Linked DNA regions of Homo sapiens. The protein of the gene in region 1 purifies or fractionates together with the protein of each later gene. This does not show direct contact. Each region holds a gene or a part of one and is shown in the gene's direction. Other genes may lie near its edges.

Region 1 (3,750 bases):
AAAAAATAAGTAACTATTGTTCTCAATTTCTTAAATAGGGACCAATTTATTTCTCGTTGCTGCTCATGAAATTGGCCACTCCCTGGGTCTCTTTCACTCAGCCAACACTGAAGCTTTGATGTACCCACTCTATCACTCACTCACAGACCTGACTCGGTTCCGCCTGTCTCAAGATGATATAAATGGCATTCAGTCCCTCTATGGTGAGTGACACTGGGAAAATCAGCCATTGTAGTTTTGCAATGATGGTCTTCAGAAGAGCTTTCAAATGCTACATAAAGTATTTATGATTTAGTTCAAAGCACCGTGAGAATGTTTGGAAAGCATACAAATGGGCATATATTGAAACGTATCACATTTCCCCTAATGTTCCCTTTAGGACCTCCCCCTGACTCCCCTGAGACCCCCCTGGTACCCACGGAACCTGTCCCTCCAGAACCTGGGACGCCAGCCAACTGTGATCCTGCTTTGTCCTTTGATGCTGTCAGCACTCTGAGGGGAGAAATCCTGATCTTTAAAGACAGGTCAGGCTGAAAAATTATATTTTCCTACCATTTTAATCTACAATGTTTAGAAAGGAAAACACGCAGAAACTTGATAGAGATTCTTAGACATTTAAAACAAAAACGTTTCTTCTGAGCTTGGAATCATTTAGATCTGGTGCTGCCTTTTCCCACATTTTCCTAAAATTGTCAGGTTCATTTTTGAAGGCACAGGCTGATCTGGTTCTTAGCTTCTAATTGCTGTTTCCAAATGTCTTAAGTCACAGTTACTTTTCAAAAGGCATGAGTAGATCTTTCGAATAATAATTTTATTTTTACTTCCTTTAAAAATGACATCAGGATCAACATTACATTTAATCAAGTAATTTACTTACTGATGGATCAATATGCACATGACAAACATTCAAAGAGCACAAATGAGAAGCAAATTAAAAATTTTAGTTCCCAGTTCTCCCTGTACTCATCCAGAGTCAAGACTTTTTGTGCATCCTTCCAGAATCTTTCTACACACATACAAGAATATATTTACACAGCACATACACGTATACAAACACGGCCTAGCTTTTGGAAGAGGGTATAGCACACGCACTGTTTTGCATACATTGCAGGTAATTAAAGCTTATGCTGGGCTAATTCATTTGCACGATAGAATAATTTTTCTTTCATAGAAGACATTACTCTGGAAACCTATGACGGGAGACTCACTACAGTCTTCTGAAGAAAAAGGAAAGAAATTTTCTAATGGCAATATACCTGATTTCTATCTGTCATCCAGCCTAGAAGATGAGAGAATGGGGGAAGCTGGGTGAGGCAAGACGGTGAGGAAAATATTCTAAAGGTGAAAGATTGTTTTTCAATTTACATTTCTTTTTACATATATTTTAGGCACTTTTGGCGCAAATCCCTCAGGAAGCTTGAACCTGAATTGCATTTGATCTCTTCATTTTGGCCATCTCTTCCTTCAGGCGTGGATGCCGCATATGAAGTTACTAGCAAGGACCTCGTTTTCATTTTTAAAGGTAATTACTATATCATCATTTGTTTAACTTGCCAAAGTAAACCCTCTCATAAGAAATTGAACAACACTTTAATTTTCCCTACTACAAGTTCTGGCTAATACAGTAGTCAACGGTAATGAAGAAATAACCAGGGCTGATATCATTGTATTTATATTTCATAGATGATAAAAATAAAGACAAGAAGATAAATTACCCAGAGTTGTAAATTCTCTCATTTGACCTTAGTTCATTCATTCAGTCTGCAAATTTTTGTGAAAAGCCCACTGTAAGCTGGTGACTAAATCTAAAATTTGGGCTACTACTTTACCATGAAAATCAAAGATGCTAAAGTGTATTTCTAAAGCGAAAGGGCTTAACTGTTATAATTCAATATGACTCTGAATTATTTATATTTAACAGGAAATCAATTCTGGGCTATCAGAGGAAATGAGGTACGAGCTGGATACCCAAGAGGCATCCACACCCTAGGTTTCCCTCCAACCGTGAGGAAAATCGATGCAGCCATTTCTGATAAGGAAAAGAACAAAACATATTTCTTTGTAGAGGACAAATACTGGAGGTGAGATGCAAGAGAAATGACTTTGTATGGAGCCTAATTAGGGAAATTAGTTTCTTTTACTAAGGAAATCCCCCACCCCAACCTTAGGCCTGCTTCTCTCTTAGTAGGAAGGATGGGACTTCAGACAACTGTGGGAAAGTTCTTACTTTAAAACAGCAGCACCTTAGGCTCTCCTGCTTTCAGTCCCAAGTGCAGTTGGCTGGTGCTTCCCTTGGTGCTGTCACCCCACCTGCCTGGAGCCCCCTCTTCTCTCCTCAACCTATTCAAATCTTGCCCATCCTTCAAGTCCTGGCTCAAGTCTCATCACCTCCATGCAGCTTTCCCTCGTGGACTTTAGACCCATTGGGAAAATGTTCTGAGAACCCAGACCGCAATTTAGCGTTCCCTTCCCATTGTCTTTTAGTTTGGCTCACTGTCTCACTGTGTGTTTGTCACTGTCTCATTGTGTGTTTGTTTTGTCTTCCTAACACTACTATATGATTTTCAAGGGCTACCTCTAACCTCACCCACTTGTCACCTCTACCTGATAATGATGGCTCATTTAAGAGATGATGATCAATAGCAGTCCAGTTTATGGATACAACCCAACACTCACAGACAGGTTGATTCCTGGGTCATTTGGCCAGACTTTGAGACATCGAGGCCGACCATCTGATATCCAGCCAATGGGCTAAAAACACACTTACTGTGCTTTGCTTCTTATCCTAATCCCTTTTCCCAGGAGGCCACCAGAGAAGATTTAGATGTGCAGGGGAGGGGACAGCAGGCATATATGGGCCAATTGTGGTAGGGAATTAAAATTGCATTTTAGATGTTGATTCAATTCACTTTATATATATGTTCACACTTTCATGTCTTTGTGACAGAAAGATGATTAAGGTTCTTTCTGTCCAGGCTTAAGAAATATGATGACAAACAGCATGTGCTACATACAGCAGGATGCGGCCCCTGTTCCGGATGGAGATATGGCTTTCAGAACTCTTTACAGTACCATTAAAGTCACATATTTCTATAGTCCCAAATATGCTTGGCATTTATTTGCAGTATTTATAAAGTTTAGTAAAATTCCACATTAAACCTAACATGATCTAAGATGTTCGGTAACATGGCCTCTATGCAATGCTGAGCTGTTTCTTTTACTTGGTACAGATTTGATGAGAAGAGAAATTCCATGGAGCCAGGCTTTCCCAAGCAAATAGCTGAAGACTTTCCAGGGATTGACTCAAAGATTGATGCTGTTTTTGAAGAATTTGGTAAGAGGATACTTACTGTGTTGGCCATAGAGCACTTGAAACATTTTATGATATCAGAGGGAAGAGGAGCATTGAAACTTTTTAATAACAAGTGTTTCTTAGGGCCAGTTCCCTTCTCAAAATTTTGATTCGCCTACATTTGTACTCATTATAGAACTACTTCACAAAATAACTTGTTTGGAACCATAAAGATAATTACACAAATCTCGCTACTTTATCTTATACATGCATATAAAATCAAAGTGCTCCAGTGTCACTTACATCTCGAGCTAACATGTGGAGTCAAGCTCGACTTTCAGATTACCATGTTAGCATAAAAATCCCATCAAGTGGTGTGGCCAGGTTTAATGTTGGTTAGCTGGCCTTCTCCTCCACCCTATCTTATTGCTGCTACTAATTCCCAGGGAGATTTTTTG
Region 2 (3,750 bases), on another chromosome or scaffold:
ACAAGCCCTTGATGGCCGGCACACCCTCACCTTTCTTCTTTTTTTCCCCCTTCTCACCTGTGTCTGCTTTCGGGAACAGCAAACCCGACAGGTAAGAACCAGCCCTCCCCCGTGGAGGCTTCAGGCAAGAGGAAGAGGACAGGGAATGGGCTGATAGTGTGCCCACAGGAGAGGGGATGCCCGGCTGCCCCCACAGCTTGTACACGTAGCTGTACTTGGTCCTGGAAACCCTAGTCATACGGGTCCATGGTCCTTTTCTTACCATGCATTCCTGGGGCCTGAATTGTGTTCACACATGAACATGTGCCACTACTAACTGGACTGTTCCGCTTGCTTCTCCTAAAGTAAACGCAAGGACTCAGAACCCCGCACCAAATGCCTCCTGAACAATGCCGACCTCGCCCCTCACCACCCCAAGGACCCTGTGGAAATGAGACGCATTAACTTCCAGACTCCAGGTATGTACTTATCCCTGGTACCAGGGATGCCACCAACAGGGGAGATAGCTGGGGAGAAGCAGTAGCTGCCACCCTGGGGGCCCCTCATTGGCCCCCTCTGAACTATGCTTGGTGCAGCCACATTCTGGATTCCCAAATACCTCCAACCCTACATGGATCTGGGCTTGGAACTCATAGGTTGGTTCTGCTTACAACCAAGTGAGGCTTTTTTTTTTTTAAAGTTAACATTTAACCAATGGCTGCTGTCCTCTTCAGGAGCCTAAAGACGATGTTTAAAAAATGGAGAAAACACAAATAAACCCCTCATTTCTTTGGGCAGAAAGAGCTATTCTTCTGTTTATGTCTCTGGTTTTAATGTTCCTCGGTGGTGGGAGTTGAGGTTTGCCCTCAGCCATTTTCCACACTCCCTTGGGATATATCCCTAGCAAGGTACAGAAATTATACCTGCCCAATGCCCTGTACCTCTTCCCACCATGGCTGCCAGGGTTCATGCCTCTTTATAGTTCCCTGTAGATTAAAGTCACCTGACAGTCCAGGAGAACTGAATCAAGGCCTTATCCTTGATCATTTTCATGTATGATTCACAAACTCTACCATCTCCTCCCTCTTCATGGGCTCATGCCAGCTGCTTCTAACCAAATAAGGAATTTTTCATTTTACTGATGGCTGCTATTCTCCTTATGGGTTCACAGCCAAGTTACATCTGTCCTTCCAACTGTACCCGGTCTCCACTTCGTATCTCTGAACTGGTTCATATCAACTCTATTTTCCAACCAAATGAAGATTTTAAACATTTGTATTTCACTGATGTCTTTAGTCCTCCTTAAAGCCTCATGCATAGCCTCACATGCCATTCCTGATGTACTTTCTTTTTTTTTGTCTCTGGACTGGCTTGTGTCACTTCTGTTTTCATCCAAATGAGGAGTTTGACCATTAGTATTTAACTGATGGCTGCTGTCCTCATAAAGGGATCATGCAGGGCCTCATGTATCACCCCTCGTGTATTCTCTTCCCTTTCTTTCCTCTGTACTGATTCGTGTTGCTTTGGTTTTTCAGCCAAATGAGAATTTTAAATGTGCATGTAACTGACGGCTGCAGTCTCCTGAAGGGATCATGCAGAGTCTCACAATTCACCGCTAATGTGCTCCCATCTCATTTCTGTCTCTGGACTAGCTGATGTCTGTTGTGTTTCCATCCAAATAAGGATTTTCAACATGTGCATTTAACTGATGGTTGCTGTCCTCCTTGAAGCTCATGGCATGGGCCCATATGTCCTTTCCCTGCTCCCCCAGCTTCTCCTTCACCATCCTGCATCCTCCTTCCTCAGAATGCCCTCTGCTGACCTCAACAGAGGGGACCCAAGGCCAGGCTGGTCTGGGGGAGGGGATCTGTAGACAGAAGAACCTAGCACTTTGGAGTCCTTCCAGAGTGACGGGTCAAGACCAGGATTGACTGGTGTCCAGCCAGAGGGGTACACAGTTAGCAGCTATCGTGAGTCCTCAGGTGGGGGCCCAGGTGGCTGTACATACCCCCCGTTGTCCGCGTTGCTCTGCCCTTTGCATCCGCCAGCCAGTGAGGGGTGGGGGAGGCAGAGGTGGGACCCCCCCCTACCCCCTGCATGTTTTCATTTATTTATTGTTTGCTGTTTGCAGATTCAGGCCTCAGGAGCCCCCTCAGGGAGCCGGGGTTTCACTTTGAAAGTTAGTTCTTGTGTCTGTTTTTGGCTTCCTTTCGCCCCCGCCCCCGTTCATTTCCTCTTTGGTTTCTCCATCGTGTCTCCTGTCTCTGTCCACACGCCCACCCATCACCGGCCTTTGCCCACCTGTCTTGTGCTGGCTCCTGGAAGAGGGCAGGGGGTTGGTCCATTGGGCCCTCAGGTGGCTGTGTGTGACTGCTGTGTGTGTGGTGTGTATGTGTGTGTCAGGGATGTGGGTGAGGCACGTATGTACCCAGGACGTGCCCACAGGACAGGCAGGCCCCTTAGATGTGAGCTCTTGGGGGGCACCCAGGACAGCTAGGGACACATGGAAGTCTCAGAACATTAAATGTTACCAGCTGGTCTGGAAACCACCTGAGAGCTGAACATCCGGTACACAGGTCCCAGGAGAGGTCAGGGTTCTGCAGACCCAGATATCGGGAAGGGAGAACCGAGCCCACACCCAGCACCTTCGGCAGCCATCCTAGGGGGCTTGAAAGGATAAGAGCTCTCAGGCCAGGGCCTTCTTGCACCTGCTCCTGCCCCAAGCAAGCGCAGGGACAGATGGGGACCCCTCACTCCTCTCACGTACACACACACATACTGTTTCCCCTCCCTAGTCTGTCGCCTCTACCTGGAAGCGGATTTCGTGCCTCTGATCCCAGAGGGACAGAAAGGGGTGTCAGTCGCCCACCCAAGGACAGTATTTCCAAAGCACAGCCGGCTGCGTCTGCAATTTAATTTCTGTGCCACACACTTGCTTCTTGGCTCGAGGCACTGGGAGCTTGACATCCTCTGGGGTGACCCTTCTGCCAGCCCCTGCACCCCCAGCTTGGTTGGAAGGAAACAGGATGGGCCAATGCTGTGATCCAGGCCCCTCCAGGGGTGTCAGCCTCTGCACGGAGCAGAGGGCCTCAAACCTGCTGCCTTTAGAGTCCCCTAGGCCTGGGGTCCCAGCCCCTTCATGAGCCACCCTGAGTCTTCCCCTCCTGCCAAGCCCCACCCCGGCCATGCCCTTCTAACCACAGCTCACCCATCGCAGACTCACACGTAGATCACCCCCCTCCCCCGAGTCCCCGGCTGGCCCCCCAAGTGACCAACCCCGGCGGGGTCTGCTCCACCCTGTAGGCATGCTTAGCCACCCGCCAATTCCCATCGCAGACATGGCGGAGCACACGGAGCGGCTCAAGGCCAACGACAGCCTCAAGCTCTCCCAGGAGTATGAGGTGAGCCCACCCCCGCCTCCCACCCTCATCACCTCGGCCTCACAGGCACCTACCCTGACACCCGCGCTCTCCCCTTCCTCTGTAGTCCATCGACCCTGGACAGCAGTTCACATGGGAACATTCCAACCTGGAAGTGAACAAGCCGAAGAACCGCTATGCCAACGTCATCGCCTATGACCACTCCCGTGTCATCCTCCAGCCCATTGAAGGTAGTTCGGAGATCCCGGGTCTTAACCTGCCCTTCCCCACTGCATGGAAAGTGCTAGATCCCATGTCTCCCCTTGGGCCACTGAGGCCTGATTCTGGTCATAGACCTGGTCCAGCTCCAACTGGAGGCCACTGGGCATCTTTAGATATGTATTTAACTGAT
Region 3 (3,750 bases), on another chromosome or scaffold:
GTGATCCGCCCCCCTTGGCCTCCCAAAGTGCTGGGATTACAGGCGTGAGCCACCGCACCCAGCCTTGTTTGTTTTTTTTAAAGAGTGGTTGAGGCTGGGCGTGGTGGCTCACACCTGTAATCACAACACTTTGGGAGGCCGAGGTGGGTGGATCACCTGAGGTCAGGAGTTCAAGACCAGCCTGGCCAACATGGTGAAACCCTGTTTCTGTTTCTACTAAAAATACAAAAATTAGCCGAGTGTGGTGGCATGCACCTGTAGTCCCAGTTACTCGGGGCTGAGGCAGGAGGATTGCTTGAGCCTGGGAGGCGGAGGTTGCAGCGAGCCGAGATCCTGCCACTGCAGAGTGAAACCCTGTCTCAAAAAAAAAAAAAAAGAAGGAAAAGAAAAAAAGAAATGGTTGAGTGTCATGGTTTTTGGATGTCCAATGGCTGGTTCCCATCCTTGCTCTGCCACTTGCTAGCTGGTACCCTAGACCAGTCACAACCCCTCAAGGGGTCTCAGTTTTCACATTCATAAAATGGGGATAATCATAAAACCCTTGTTGTCAGGATTTTGTGGAAAGTGAATGAATTAATACAGTTAAAGTGCTTAGGGCATGGCCTGGCATCTAGTAAGTAGGCACTACATGTTAGTTTTTATTATGGTTATTATTGTAAGCATCAGACTCAGTCGTGGGATCACCTCCTCCAGGAAGCCTTCCCTGATTGCCCCAGGTTCAAGCTGTCTTCTGGGCTTCCCTAGTGCTGTCCGTGACTTCTTTGGATCATGTCTGGCCCAAGATGGGGGTTCTGAAAGAACATGCCCTCAGGTGTTGGACTCTTCCCTCTCTTCCAGATGTACAGGTGGATCATCTGAATCTCCTGAAACAGTTTGAACACCTGGACCCTCAGAACCAGCATACATTCGAGGCCCGCGACCTGGAGCTGCTGATCCAGACGGTAATGGGAGTGGGTCCGGAGGCAGAGGATTGAGGGTAGCTTTGCGGAAGGGGAGAAGGGGACAGAGTCCCAGACGTGAGCCAGCTCACCATTCCTGCTGGTGTTCTCTGAGGTTGGAGGCTGGTAGAGGGCTGAGTCGTTTCTTTTCTTTTCTTTTTTTTTTTTTTTTTGAGACGAAATCTCGCTGTTTTCCCCCAGGCTGGAGTGCAATGGCACAATCTCGGCTCACTGCAACCTCCGCCTCCCGGGTTCAAGCGATTCTCCTGCCTCAGCCTCCCGAGTAGCTAGGATTACAGGTGCCTGCCGTCACGCCCAGAAAATTTTTGTATTTTTAGTAGAGACAGGGTTTCACCATGTTGGCCAGGCTGGTCTCGAACTCCTGACCTCAGGTGATCCACCCGCCTCAGCCTCCCAAAGTGCTGGGATTACAAGTGTCAGCCACCGCACCCAGCTCTTCTTATAGTGATACCCACCGTAATCTAGCAGGCCATCATCTTAACTAATTACATCTGCAAACACTCTATTTCCAAATAAGATCACATTCTGAGATTCCAGGTGGACATGAATTTGGGAGTGTGGGGGGAGTATACTGTTCAACCTGGTATTGTTAACTCCATTTTACAGAGGTGGAAACTGAGGCACAAAGAGGCTGAGTAACTTGCCCAGTGTCACAGAGCTTATGAGATTTGGTCACAAAGCAAAGCCTAGATTTGAACGCTGGGCAAAATAGTTAGAAACCTCTTGTTCTTTTTTTGGTTTATTTTTACTTTTTTTTTTTTTTTTTTTACCTGAGACAGCGTCTTGCTCTGATGCCCAGGCTGGAGTGCAGTGGCATGATCACAGCTCACTGCAGCCTCAACCTCCTGGGCTCAAGCAATCCTCCCACCTGACCCTCCTGAGTAGCTGGGACCAGAGGTGCAAGCCACCGCACCAGGCTAATTTTAAAAATTTTTAGTAGACACAAGGTCTCGCTGTGTTATGTGAGTTAGTCTTGAACTCCCGGGCTCGAGTGATCCTCCCACCCTAGCCTCCCAAAGTGCTAGGATTCCAGGCGTGACCCACCTCTCCTAGTCTGACCTTATGTTCTTGGCCACCTAGCTGTACCTGAAATACATAAATACTAAGTTCACCACATATGTTGTTCCTATTTACTTATTCCTCCAAGATCTGGAGATTGTGGAGGACTTGAAAGAGGTGGGTTGAAGTTGCTATTGTATAACCGTCCCAATCTGTTTTGAATAAAGAGAAGAAAGTGTGTTATGGGGCAGGAGCAGTCATGGAAACCAAAAAGGGCGACATCAGGCTGTGCGCGATGGCTCACGCCTATAATCCCAGCACTTTGGGAGGCTGACGTGGGCGGATCACCTGAGGTCAGGAGTTTGAGACCAGCCTGGCCAACATGGTGAAACCTCGTTTCTACTAAAAATACAAAAATCAGCTGGGCCTGGTGACACATGCCTATAATCCCAGCTACTCGAAAGGCCGAGGCAGGAGAATCACTTGAACCCGGAAGACAGAGGTTGAAGTGAGGCAGTGAGCAGAGATTGTGCCACCGCACTCCAGCCTGGGCAACAGAGCAAGACTCCCTCTCAAAAAAAAAAAAAAAAAAAGGGACATTAGGACACGAGACGTAAGAAAGACAGGTAGAGGCTGGGGCTGCCCTCAGCCAGGTTCAGGGCCAAGGGCCTGCCATTTACAGGCTGGAATTGGGGGCTGGGCAGAGGGGGCAGAGGGGAATGACCCTGTGCCTTTCCCCAGGCCACCCGGGACCTTGCCCAGTACGACGCAGCCCATCATGAAGAGTTCAAGCGCTACGAGATGCTTAAGGAACACGAGAGACGGCGTTATCTGGAGTCACTGGGAGAGGAGCAGAGAAAGGAGGCGGAGAGGAAGCTGGAAGAGCAACAGCGCCGGCACCGCGAGCACCCTAAAGTCAACGTGCCTGTGAGGACCCCATTTGTGCCCATCCACTCCCTACCACATCCAGTTCAAACGCAAGACAAGAAAGCAGTTAAAGAACTACAATTCCCAGGGGCCCTTGAGGCAAAAAAACTCCCTGTTACTGTACCTGGCTGCCCCAGGGTCTGCTGGGAGTTGTAGTTTTCTTAGTTTTCTTGCTTGAGGGAGATGATGTTTGTTGGATGAGGGTAAAGGGATATTTGGTTTTATCCCATGGCATCCAGACTTCTTGCTCATGAGCTCCTGGCTCTCCCCTCCACAGGGCAGCCAAGCCCAGTTGAAGGAGGTGTGGGAGGAGCTGGATGGACTGGACCCCAACAGGTTTAACCCCAAGACCTTCTTCATACTGCATGGTAAGGTGGGGAGGGAGTTCCAGAGCCAGGATGAACCCTAGATTCTGACCCTTCTAGGACCTGAATGCTAAGAGGGGTGTGTCTGTCCCAGGAGGGCTTAGTCAGGCCCAAGAGCCAAGCCTATGTCCCCTGGTTGACCAGACAGCCCTGCCTCTCCCGACTACAAGGCTAGGATCTGCATGGAAGGGTTGGGCCTCTTTTCTAGCAAACACCAGACCTCGGGGTTCTAAGGACAGCTGGTGTCCTCTGTAAGCAAACCAGGCTTGGCTAGGCCTGGGCCCTCTGCCCACAGCAGCCCAGGAGAAGCCCTGGTCCACTCTGGGAACCCTGTCGCTAGGAGTGGGTTGTTCCCTAAGAACCAGGCCTCCAGAAGCCTGGAAAACCCTTTCTCTTTTTCTTTTTCCTTTTTTTTTTTTTTTTTGAGATGGAGTCTTGCTCTGTTGCCCAGGCTGGAGTGCAGTGGCATGACCTCGGCTCACTGCAACCCCCTGCCCTCC

What was found.
Region 2: the proteins of MMP3 (region 1) and PTPRS purify together in Homo sapiens (affinity purification with mass spectrometry; 4 studies listed by BioGRID and IntAct, with this or other methods). This does not show direct contact.
Region 3: the proteins of MMP3 (region 1) and NUCB1 purify together in Homo sapiens (affinity purification with mass spectrometry; 3 studies listed by BioGRID and IntAct, with this or other methods). This does not show direct contact.

The regions. Positions count from the first base shown.
Region 1 is NC_000011.10:102,836,882-102,840,631, reverse strand, and holds part of MMP3 (stromelysin-1 preproprotein), read left to right. Parts: intron 1-38; coding exon 39-203; intron 204-379; coding exon 380-524; intron 525-1,388; coding exon 1,389-1,522; intron 1,523-1,921; coding exon 1,922-2,081; intron 2,082-3,230; coding exon 3,231-3,334; intron 3,335-3,750. UniProt on the Homo sapiens protein: Metalloproteinase with a rather broad substrate specificity that can degrade fibronectin, laminin, gelatins of type I, III, IV, and V; collagens III, IV, X, and IX, and cartilage proteoglycans.
Region 2 is NC_000019.10:5,215,128-5,218,877, reverse strand, and holds part of PTPRS (receptor-type tyrosine-protein phosphatase S isoform 1 precursor), read left to right. Parts: intron 1-79; coding exon 80-91; intron 92-345; coding exon 346-458; intron 459-2,110; coding exon 2,111-2,158; intron 2,159-3,282; coding exon 3,283-3,380; intron 3,381-3,465; coding exon 3,466-3,589; intron 3,590-3,750. UniProt on the Homo sapiens protein: Cell surface receptor that binds to glycosaminoglycans, including chondroitin sulfate proteoglycans and heparan sulfate proteoglycan.
Region 3 is NC_000019.10:48,910,312-48,914,061, forward strand, and holds part of NUCB1 (nucleobindin-1 precursor), read left to right. Parts: intron 1-618; exon of another isoform or gene 619-837; coding exon 838-941; intron 942-2,699; coding exon 2,700-2,885; intron 2,886-3,162; coding exon 3,163-3,253; intron 3,254-3,750. UniProt on the Homo sapiens protein: Major calcium-binding protein of the Golgi which may have a role in calcium homeostasis. Acts as a non-receptor guanine nucleotide exchange factor which binds to and activates alpha subunits of guanine nucleotide-binding proteins (G proteins).